2 separate regions of the Homo sapiens genome follow, and region 1 is linked to region 2. Evidence: fine-mapped expression QTL. Tissue or cell type: tibial nerve. Region 2 holds a variant in brackets; the other region holds the start of a gene. All regions are shown on one strand. Distances are from middle to middle.

What was found. PIP is the estimated chance that this variant, and not a neighbour inherited with it, causes the effect.
Region 1: LYNX1 starts here. The variant in region 2 is fine-mapped to the expression of LYNX1 in tibial nerve (GTEx, PIP above 0.99).

Annotation. Positions count from the first base shown.
Region 1 is chr8:142,774,685-142,779,823 of GRCh38, reverse strand. It overlaps LYNX1 (Ly6/neurotoxin 1), which reads left to right and starts at 2,622. Exons shown (of 4, transcript NM_177477.4): 1 at 2,622-2,718; 2 at 3,703-3,918; 3 at 4,130-4,231; 4 at 4,461-5,139. The coding sequence starts at 3,867. The coding sequence ends at 4,657. It overlaps LYNX1-SLURP2 (LYNX1-SLURP2 readthrough), which reads left to right and starts at 1,952. Exons shown (of 5, transcript NM_023946.5): 1 at 1,952-2,065; 2 at 3,703-3,918; 3 at 4,130-4,231. The coding sequence starts at 3,867.
Region 2 is chr8:143,607,989-143,613,105 of GRCh38, reverse strand. PYCR3 (pyrroline-5-carboxylate reductase 3) reads left to right here and starts at 3,531. Exons shown (of 6, transcript NM_023078.6): 1 at 3,531-3,648; 2 at 4,980-5,044. The coding sequence starts at 3,558. GFUS (GDP-L-fucose synthase) reads left to right here. Exons shown (of 11, transcript NM_003313.4): 11 at 141-488. The coding sequence ends at 196. RefSeq lists an enhancer at 1,924-2,423. The variant A/G (reference allele first, on the strand shown) is at 2,702.

The DNA of each region.
Region 1 (5,139 bases), 830 kb after region 2:
TTTGTTTTTGAGGCAGAGTCTCACTCACTCTGTCGCTCAGGCTGGAGTGCAGTGGCACCATCTCAGCTTACTGCAACCTCTGCCTCCCAGGTTCAAGCAATTCTCCTGCCTCAGCCTCCCAAGTAGCTGGGATTACAGGCACCCACCGCCATGCCCAGCTAATTTTTGTATTTTTTAGTAGAGAGGGAGTTTCACCATGTTGGCCAGGCTGGTCTGGAACTCCTGACTTCAAGTGATCCACCTTCCTCAGCCTTTCAAAGTGTTGGGATTACAGGTTAGGATTACAGGTGTGAGCCACCGTGCTCAGCCTGATTGAAGTGTTTAGATGACATAGTGTCATTATTGCTGTGGCTGGGTTTAAATATATGTCATCTTGCTATTTGTTTTCTATTTGTCTCATTGTTTTTTCCTTTCTCCTCTTCTGCAGTCTCTGTAACATGTGCTTTTATAAATAAATAATTCTGTATCATCACTTTTGTTGATTTATTAACTACAGTGCTTTGACTTTTGCTTTTTTCTTTGTCTTTTTTTAGTGACACTTTAGCGTCTTAGCATACACCTTTGACTTACTAGTCTACCTCCAAGAAATAGTAGGCCACTTCACATAGAGTAGAATAAATCTACAACAGTGAACTTCCATTGTCCCTCTCCTGGTCTATTTGTATTACTATTTTTTTTTAAATTTATTTGACACAGCGTCTTGCTCTATCACCCAGGCTTCAGTGCAGTAGCGTGATCACAGCTCACTGCAACCTCCACCTCCTGGGTTCAAGTGATTCTCCCACCTCAGCCTCCTGGGTGCAACCTCAGGTGTGCACCACCACACCCAGCTAATTTTTTGGTATTTTTTTTTTTTTAGAGATGAGGTCTCTCTACGTTGCCCAGCCAAGCCTGGTCTTGAACTCCTGGGCTCAAGCGATCCACTCGCCTCAGCCTCCCAAAGTGCTGGGATTACAGGCGTGAGCCGCGGTGCCCAGCCTGCACTACTATTATCATACAATTTACTTCTACATTTGCTATAAATTCCTTAATACATTGTTATTATTTTTGCTTTAGGTAATCAACTATCTTTTAACTTGATTCAAAAATAAGAAAAAAATTACCTTCTATTTCCTATTTCTGGTGTCATTTATTCCTTTGTGTAGATCCGTATTTCTGCCTGAAGAACTTCCTTTAACATAAAGGTCCCCAACCCCTGGGTCACAGACCGGTTAGGAACCACGCCACACAGCAGGAGGCGAGCGCTGGCGGGCGGGCAAGGGAAGTTTCATCCGTATTAATTCATCGTGGTCTGAGGCTGAAGACCGCGACATACTCTGGTTCTGACCTATGCGTTCCTTCCACGCCCCTTATCCCACCAGAGTGTGAGCTCCATGGGGTGGGAATATTCTGGAACGTCTGCTGGTTTTATTCTTTGCCTTCTCCCCAACTAGGACCTGGCACAGGAGGGTGCGCATTACCTCTCGGCAAACAGAACAACTAACTGGCCTAGTTTGCTGGGGACCGAAGGATTTCCTGGAACCGGAGCCCGCTTGCCCAGCAGGCATGGTGTATTCTGTACCTCAGGCCCGCAAAAATGTTTTAAAGAAAAAAATGAGCTTTAGGGTAGAAGAAAAGGTTTTATTTTTCTTTCTCACATTGGAAAAAATGAAAACTTTCGGACCCATGAAATTTTATTACATTTTGCCAAAAACAGAACCAATAACATAAGTATTCAAAGTTATGTAAAGATAATTATTTAATATGAACATTATGATGGTGAGAGGGACCACGGAGCAAGGGGCTGCCTTGCAGGCCTGCCTTCCAGCTTTGCTACAGGGACCAGAAGCGGGAGCTGAGCGCAGGGGAGGCAGGCGGAGGCCATGGGCAGCGAGGCGGGTGCGCCAAAGGGCGCCAGTTCCGGAGCTGCTGGGCCTGGGCTGCAGGAGGGCGGAGCTGGGGCCGCAAGGCTGGTGCCGGCCGACAAACGACGCGGCGCGGGCGAGTGGGCGGAGGCGGCTGCGGGGAAGGCTGGGCTGCCGCGGGACGCGGTGAAGATAGCCTGCGGAGTGTCCGGGCTGAACACGTGAGTCTGAGGGTCGCCAGGGAATCACTGCGTGGCTGCCTCTGTGTCGGAGATCCAGATGCCTGGACTGGCCTCGGGGTCCCAGCGCTTGCCCGGCGAGCCGGCGGTCCGGGGACGGGTCCGGGCCGAGGCCTGCGGTGAACTCGGCTCGGCGGGTGCCCAGGAGGCGGGTCCGGGGCGGGGCCTGCGGTGAACTCGGCTCGGCGGGTGCCCAGGAGGCGGGTCCGGGGCGGGGCCTGCGGTGAACTCGGCTCGGCGGGTGCCCAGGAGGCGGGTCCGGGGCGGGGCCTGCGGTGAACTCGGCTCGGCGGGTGCCCAGGAGGCGGGGCAGGGGCGGGGCCTGCAGTGAGCGCGGCTTGGTGAGTAGCCCAGGAGGCGGGTCCGGGGCGGGGCCTGCGGTGAGCTCGGCTCGGGGGGTTGCTCAGGAGGTGGGGCCGGGGCAGGCCTGGGGCGGGGCCTGCGGTGAGCTCGCGCTGGGCGGGCTGTTCCGGGGGCGGGACTGGGCTGGGCCTGCGGTGAGCATCAGGCGATGCGGCACGGGTGCTGCGGGACACACAGACACGCCTACGATTAGACTCAGGCAGGCACCTACCGGCGAGCGGCCGCGGGTGACTCCCAGGCGCGGCGGTACCTCACGGTGGTGAAGGTCACAGGTGAGGTCACCCTGATAGTCCCGCTCGCGCCGAGAGCCCTCCCCTCGACCTGGGACCGCAGTGTTTGGGGCGGGGCTCTCCGTGAGGGGGTTGGGAAGCTCGAAGCCGCAGGCCTGACTCTGGCCTTTGGCATCCTGGGGTTGGCCTGGGCAAATGTGTCGTGAGAGACGGATTTGTTGTTCTCGGGAAGGCGTAAGTTTAATTTAGTCCTCCAGGACGGAGACCGAGGGCCGAGTATCCCGGCAGGGGTAGGAGAGCCGTAATCCAACCCCCACCTCCCCACTGTAAACCTCTTTCCAGAGAGGGCATTCCCGTTCCAAACACCAGACCCAGCCGGGGAAATGCTTCTTCTTGTCTGGCCCAAGTGCCCTCCTGGGAGGGGCTCAAAATGCATTCCCCCCAAGCTGGGCACAGCTCATCCCTGCTGGGGAGCTTCTGCAGTGGCCGAGGACTCAGACAACCCTAACCAGGGCTCTGGAGGTCTTCTGGAAGAAGGAACCCCAAGTAGGGACACCCCAGGAGCAGAGAGGAGGGGAACAGCGAGAAGAGACCCAGCTTTTGGGCCCAGTCCTGCCATGGCCAGCCATCCGGCCCCCAGGGCCCTGCTTGGGATGGGGCTGCAGACCACCTCCCATGGGACCTCTGCACCAACCATCCCCTGGGTAAAATCCTTGTTTAGGCCTGGTATTTAAGGCCCCTCTGCCCATCCCTACTCCTTCTCTAGCACTGCCCCTCATCCTCCCCCCATCTCTCCTCCATCCAGCGCTACAGGCTGTTTTGAGCTTTTGCAGGTGCTGGTCTCTGATTGAAATGTCCTGATCTCTTCTCCCTTCTTGTCCCATCCCAAGTGTCTCCTCCTCCAGGAAACCTTCCCTGACACCCACTGAGTTAGGTGGCCCCTCTGCCCACCATCATCCCTGCCCAGGCCCCCATGGGTCCTTCAGGCCCAGTACTGACCACCTGTCTTTGCCACCTGCTGTGCAGGGTTGCAGCACTCCCAGTAGACCAGGAGCTCCGGGAGGCAGGGCCGGCCCCACGTCCTCTGCGCACCACCCTGAGTTGGATCCTCTGTGCGCCACCCCTGAGTTGGATCCAGGGCTAGCTGCTGTTGACCTCCCCACTCCCACGCTGCCCTCCTGCCTGCAGCCATGACGCCCCTGCTCACCCTGATCCTGGTGGTCCTCATGGGCTTACCTCTGGGTAAGATGGACAAAGGACAGAGGGATGGGCAGACCCACTTTGAGGGCAGATGGGCTGACAGTAGGGAAGGAGGCTAGAATTCCCAGCGACAACCCCTCCTTCTAGCCCCCTGCCCCGGGGAAGGTGACGGGCTGGGGGCCTGATGGGCTGGAGGAGGGGCCTCTCATGTTCTGTGACCCCCGTTCCCTTCCCGCCCATCTGCCAACCCCAGCCCAGGCCTTGGACTGCCACGTGTGTGCCTACAACGGAGACAACTGCTTCAACCCCATGCGCTGCCCGGCTATGGTTGCCTACTGCATGACCACGCGCACCTGTGAGTCTGGGGGCCCTGCGTGGCCCTGCCTGGGGAGCACGAAGGGGAGGTTCTGCCCTGCCCCTGAGCATGCGGGGGTCCTGAGGAAGGAGGCTCTCCTGTTCCCGGATCCTGTCTGGGAGCTCCAGGCTGAGGGGCCCTGCCCTGATGGCTGTGGATGCTGGGGTGGGGCCAGCTGGGTCTCCTGCCCCTCTTAGCGGAGCTGGCTCACCGCCCCGCCCCTCTGCAGACTACACCCCCACCAGGATGAAGGTCAGTAAGTCCTGCGTGCCCCGCTGCTTCGAGACTGTGTATGATGGCTACTCCAAGCACGCGTCCACCACCTCCTGCTGCCAGTACGACCTCTGCAACGGCACCGGCCTTGCCACCCCGGCCACCCTGGCCCTGGCCCCCATCCTCCTGGCCACCCTCTGGGGTCTCCTCTAAAGCCCCCGAGGCAGACCCACTCAAGAACAAAGCTCTCGAGACACACTGCTACACCCTCGCACCCAGCTCACCCTGCCTCACCCTCCACACTCCCTGCGACCTCCTCAGCCATGCCCAGGGTCAGGACTGTGGGCAAGAAGACACCCGACCTCCCCCAACCACCACACGACCTCACTTCGAGGCCTTGACCTTTCGATGCTGTGTGGGATCCCAAAAGTGTCCGGCTTTGATGGGCTGATCAGCCCCTCGCCTGTCCAGGGCTATTTATGGGGAGGGGCCCAGTCAGGCAGGGAGCACTGAGCAGATGGGAGCTGTGGCCAAGCCCACCTTCTGGGAAGCCCTAGGAGAGGCCCCTGCCTCAGTCTGCCCCTGGTGTGCTGGGGCAGGGGGAAGACAAGGAATGCCCGCAGGTGGGGTGGTGGGGAGACTCTTAGGAGGAAAGGCTCCTCCAGGCCTAGTCACGCTTCCTACTGAGGCCAGGA
Region 2 (5,117 bases):
CTCAGAGCCTGTACTGCCCTGGAGGTGGGACACCAAAGCTCTGAGGGGTGACTTCCCTGTCCCTGGGCCTCCTCCCCCCACTTCCTCCCATGCGGCCCCGACCCTCCCTGTCCATGGCCCTCACCTGCCTGCCTCTGCAGCGGTGAAGGAGACCTGTGCTTGGTTCACTGACAACTACGAGCAGGCCCGGAAGTGAAGCTGGAAGACAGGATCAGGTGCCAGCGGACCATCGGCTGGCAGAGCCCAGCGGCCACCACCCGTCAACCCTGCCAGGAGCTGAGGGCACCACCCAGCAACCTGGGCCTGCATTCCATCCGCTCTGCAGCCCCAAGCATCTTTCCAGTGGGGCCCCCATTCACGTTGGTCCTCAGGGAAACCAGGGTCCCGGGCAGGCCCGGCGCTTTGCTCCCCACACCAGCCCCCTGCGCGTGTCCACTCTGATCCTGCATCCCACTCCCTGGGAGCCAATAAAGTGCATTTTCACAGGCCTGGCCTTGGCAGCTCTGTGCTGAGCCGTCCCCCACACCCAGGGACTGCCCCCTAGCCTGGCCAGTCCCAGGACCCACTATCCCCCTGGCTTACTGTTCAGCCCCCAAGAGCTGGTGACTCCCTGGGGTGGAAAGGCCGCAGAGGCTGGAGATGGGAAGGCACACGTGGGCAGGCAGCAGGCAGGCAGCAGTGAGACTGGTGTGGACTGTCAGCTGGACAAGGATGTGCAGGGCAGGGCCAGTCCCAGCCCCTCCACATGTGGCCACCTGCAGGCCTGAGTAACTTGAGCTCACCCGGACCTCCCTGCCTCAGCCTGAGGGCTCTGGGGAAGCTGGTCTAGTGGGCCAGAAACGTCTAGTGAGCCAGCCGAGCTGAGCCCATGGATGGATATGAGGGGAGGCTGATGATTGGGTGGCTCGGGCTTCCCCTGGCCTGGCCCCTCCTCTCTGTGGCTCTCAGGCTTGGGCGTGGGTCCCCCACCTGGCCTTATCCCATGGAGAGGGACAGGTGCCTGCTGGACAGGTCAGCTCCAGCCACCAGAGGTGGGGTGTCATTGCTCGCCGCCCCCGTCCATTCTCAGAGGGGAGACAGCAAAGTCCAGAATGGTTCCCGGGCCAGTGCCTCAGCCAGGCAGGGTGGCGCTGGGGTATGGACCAGGAGCACTGGGCTCCAGGCCCCGGCTTGCCCGTCGCCCCCTTTCTCAGTGCCTCTCACAGAGGGAGCCCCTATGCCAGAACCCTCTGGTCCACTGCATCCAGGACCCAGATGCCCTCCCTGGCTCCTGGCCCAACTCTGGGCCCACGTCCTCAGGGTCCCTCTCCTGGGCGCCCTGTGCCGTCTTCACGCACATGATGCCTTTTGGCTGCAGGTAGGACCTGCTGCTTCACTTCTTCGTTCATTCCGGCAGCGGTGATGTGTCCTCCCTGTCCCGGCACTGAGTCCAGACCGGTGTGTCCTGCACCCAGCCAACCGCTCACCTCATCTCTCACTGTCCCTTTGTGTCCAGCAAGCCGAGGTGTCCTCCAGGCCTCCCCTGAGACTGGCCCCCTCTTGGGTCAAGGCCTCCCTACCTTTTAGGCCTCAGCTGAGGTGGCCCAGCCTCCAAAACACCTTCCCTGATGGCACCTTCACAGCGCCTCTCGGAGCATCCACCCTGCCCTGCTGGGATTGTTTGTCTGGAAACCTCTGGGAGCCCCGCCTCAACCCCTAACCCTCCCGCTGACACCCCAGGACCTCGAGCTCCAGGAGACGGGTTGGCCTCGTTCACAGTGTATCCCCTGGCCCCAGCCCTTTGTGGATAAAGGCTCTGCCCATGTGGGGGTTCAGGAAAGGCCTCCTGGAGAGGGTGGCGCCTATGTGGCTGCTTGGATCCACCAGGTGAACAGTGGGAAGAAGCCCAGCCAAGAGCAGAGAGGTGCCCTGGACACAAGCCTTGGCTGGCTGGGTGTCCACGTCAGCTGAGGGCTCCCAGCTGATGCTCAGAAGCCCAGCCCGGCATGGGACGGAGAAGCTGAACGGGGCTGGGCCCCTGGGCCTCCTTTTACCCACTGTGGCCCTGGGCACTCAGCCAGCAATCCTCCTTCACCTCGCCTCAGTCCACTTGTTTATGATGAGCTTTGTCCTTATGTATGATGGCATGGCACTGGATGCCTCTGGCCCCTCTCACCTCCCCACAGCCTTGGTCCTGAGCCATCACTGGCCCAGGGGGCCTGGGAGAAAATCCAGGGAGTCTGTGGGAAGGGGCTGGGAGGATCCGAGGTGGCAGGAGATACAGCTGCTGACGCTGTGTGCTGGTGCAAAGTGTCCACCACCCACGTTTCTCGGCTGCAGTGGCCGAAGCAGCCTCCTGGTGGCTTTCTGTCCCTTTCCACCTCATTTGCTTCAGAGCCTTGACACACTGGCTGTCCTGCGTGTGTGCTGACTGTAGTCTGTCTACACTGCCACCAAGCAGGGCTGCAGGGTGGGGTCCAGCCTGTCCCATCTGCTGCCGTGGGGTGATCTTGCCCAGGCCCAGAGCAGGGCCCAGAGGCTGCAGCTGCACAGTGAATGTTGAATCAATGAGAGGATTTCATTACTGAAGAGCTTAGAAAATGTCAAAGGCTTGGGCCGGCACGGTGGCTCACGCCTGTAATCCCAGCACTTTGGGAGGCCGAGGCAGGTGGATCACGAGGTCAGGAGATTGAGACCATCCTGGCTAACAAGGTGAAACCCC[A/G]TCTCTACTAAAAATACAAAAAAATAAGCCGGGCGTGGTGGCGGTCGCCTATAGTCCCAGCTACTTGGGAGGCTGAGGCAGGAGAATGGCGTGAACCCGGGAGACGGAGCTTGCAGCGAGCCCAGATGGCGCCACTGCACTCCAGCCTGGGCGACAGAGCGAGACTCCGTCTCAAAAAAAAGAAAAAAGAAAATGTCAAAGGCTTCAAAAGAAAATAACATATGTAACATGCAGCTTTAGATTGGATGATGAAAAAACCGCACTCAGATCTTCAAGCCTTGTTTTCCTTGTGTCATTAAAAGTGACGAGTACCCCCTCCCCGACTGTCCCCTCCGTCGGTCTCAGGCCCCTGGCCCTGGCCTGCTCTCCGTGACCTGGGTCTCCGCCCCTAGTGCTTCCCCGCAGCTCCACCGTCTGTGGTCGGCGGGGCCTCAGTGACCGCACGCTCTGGACCAGCCCCGCAACCCGCTTCGCTACCCCTCCCCTCCGGAAAACCAACATGTGCTCCTCGCACGCGCGACCGGGACCCCTCCCCGCTCCTCCGGCCTCTCCGAGCGCGAGTACCCCGCCGGCCCCGCCCCTTACGGCCCCGCCCCCAGTTTCTCTCAGCCAATGGGCAGTGAGGGGCGGCATAGCCCTTTCGGGCCAATAAGCAGCGAGAGGCGGGGTTCCCGCGCCTTGCGAACTTGTAGAGTGCGGACAAAAAGCCGGCCGGAGTGTGCCGTCCCAGTAACCAATCGGCGAGGGTGGGGACGGGGAGGCGAGTCCTATTGGAGGGCGGGGGTGGGGCCTAGATCTGTGGGCGGGGCGCGGCCTGTGGATGGGCGGTGAGCGCAGCGGCGTCCGAGGCAACAAGATGGCAGCTGCGGAGCCGTCTCCGCGGCGCGTGGGCTTCGTGGGCGCGGGCCGCATGGCGGGGGCCATCGCGCAGGGCCTCATCAGAGCAGGTGGGGCGGCGCGGGGCTAGGCCTGCGGTCTGGAGTGGGAGCAGCCCCGTGGGAGGTGTCCTGCCGCGAGAGTGGGGCCGGGGGCGCGGGCCCAGCCAACCGGGTCTCCGCTCCGCTGGGCGCAGCCGGGGCCACGCCTGTTTGCTCTTACTTTTTTGACGTGGCTGCGGGAAGATTTGAGTCACACGTGGCTAGGTGCCGCTTCCGTGGCCGGCTTCCTGGCCGCGTGGCCTTGGCCAGGCTCACCTCTTCCAGCCTCTGATTTTCTCTTTGCGCGCCAGCCCCTCTCATGGGGAGCAGCAGGGCTTCTCCCCCAGACACCTTGGCTCTAGGGACACCTGGGCCAGACTATCCATCCTGTGCCAGCAGCACCCCCACGTTGTGACAGCCAAAAATGCCTCCAGACACTGCCGAATGTCCCCTGGGTGGGGGGAGGAGACAGGCAAAATCATCCCCTGTTGAGAAACACTGCTTTATACCCGGAATATTTATGCTGACCATATACTCCTCCAGGCATTTAGAAGCCTCTCTGCAGATTGTGGATAGGGAGAGCTGGGTGACTTTTGACTCTCTGCCTTCAGCCATACTTCAGGGTCCAGAAGAGTCAAGATCAATCGGGAAATAGCTTACTATGAGTCTCAGGAGTCTTCCCTGTGAAACCTGGCAGTACCGCATGCCTCCCAGAGCTGTACAGGTTAAATGAGACATAAATGTCTAGTGTTGAGCTTAGTACTGGTGTGTTTGGCTGCCACTGTCATGATTAATTGCTGTGTTCAGGTTGTGGTGTACACTTGTGCCTTCCTGTTCGACCTTACCAAAATCTAACCCAATCTTTCCACCCCGTACCCGACAAAAGCAGATAATTTCTACCAAGTAGGCATTTAGCCTTTTCTTAGACATTCCAGCATAGACTCTCCCTCTCGAAGAACCTGGGCCCCGATTGGGCCTTCTGTGGCCAATCAACTGCCTTTGTACCCACCACATTCCCCCAAGGCCTGGTGTTCCTCCAGAGGTACTGCCTCTTCTGCTCCAGGCAGCCTTCCCTTCCCTGGAGGCAGAGGCCCCAGGGATCTGTGTCCTCACCAATGAGGTAAGCTCCTGGCCTCCATACCCAGCAGCAGTCAGGGGCGTTGACCGCCAAGTAGAATCAGTGGATCTGATTGCCTGGGCCCAGTGAATGGTGCATCCCGCTTTGGGTTCCTGGGGCCAGGAGGGGGCCCAGGATGGGCCAGGCGTGGCTGAGCCTGAGAGGCCAAGTGAGCTCCCTCTCCTCTCCGTGCCATCCTATCCCACCCCTTCACCAACCCCTCTTCCTTTTCCTTTCTTTCCAGGAAAAGTGGAAGCTCAGCACATACTGGCCAGTGCACCAACAGACAGGAACCTATGTCACTTTCAAGTGAGCATAGAGCCCAGGTTCTTCATACCCTCAGGAGCCCAGGATAGCTCTTGGCTCCTGTCCCACTAAGACA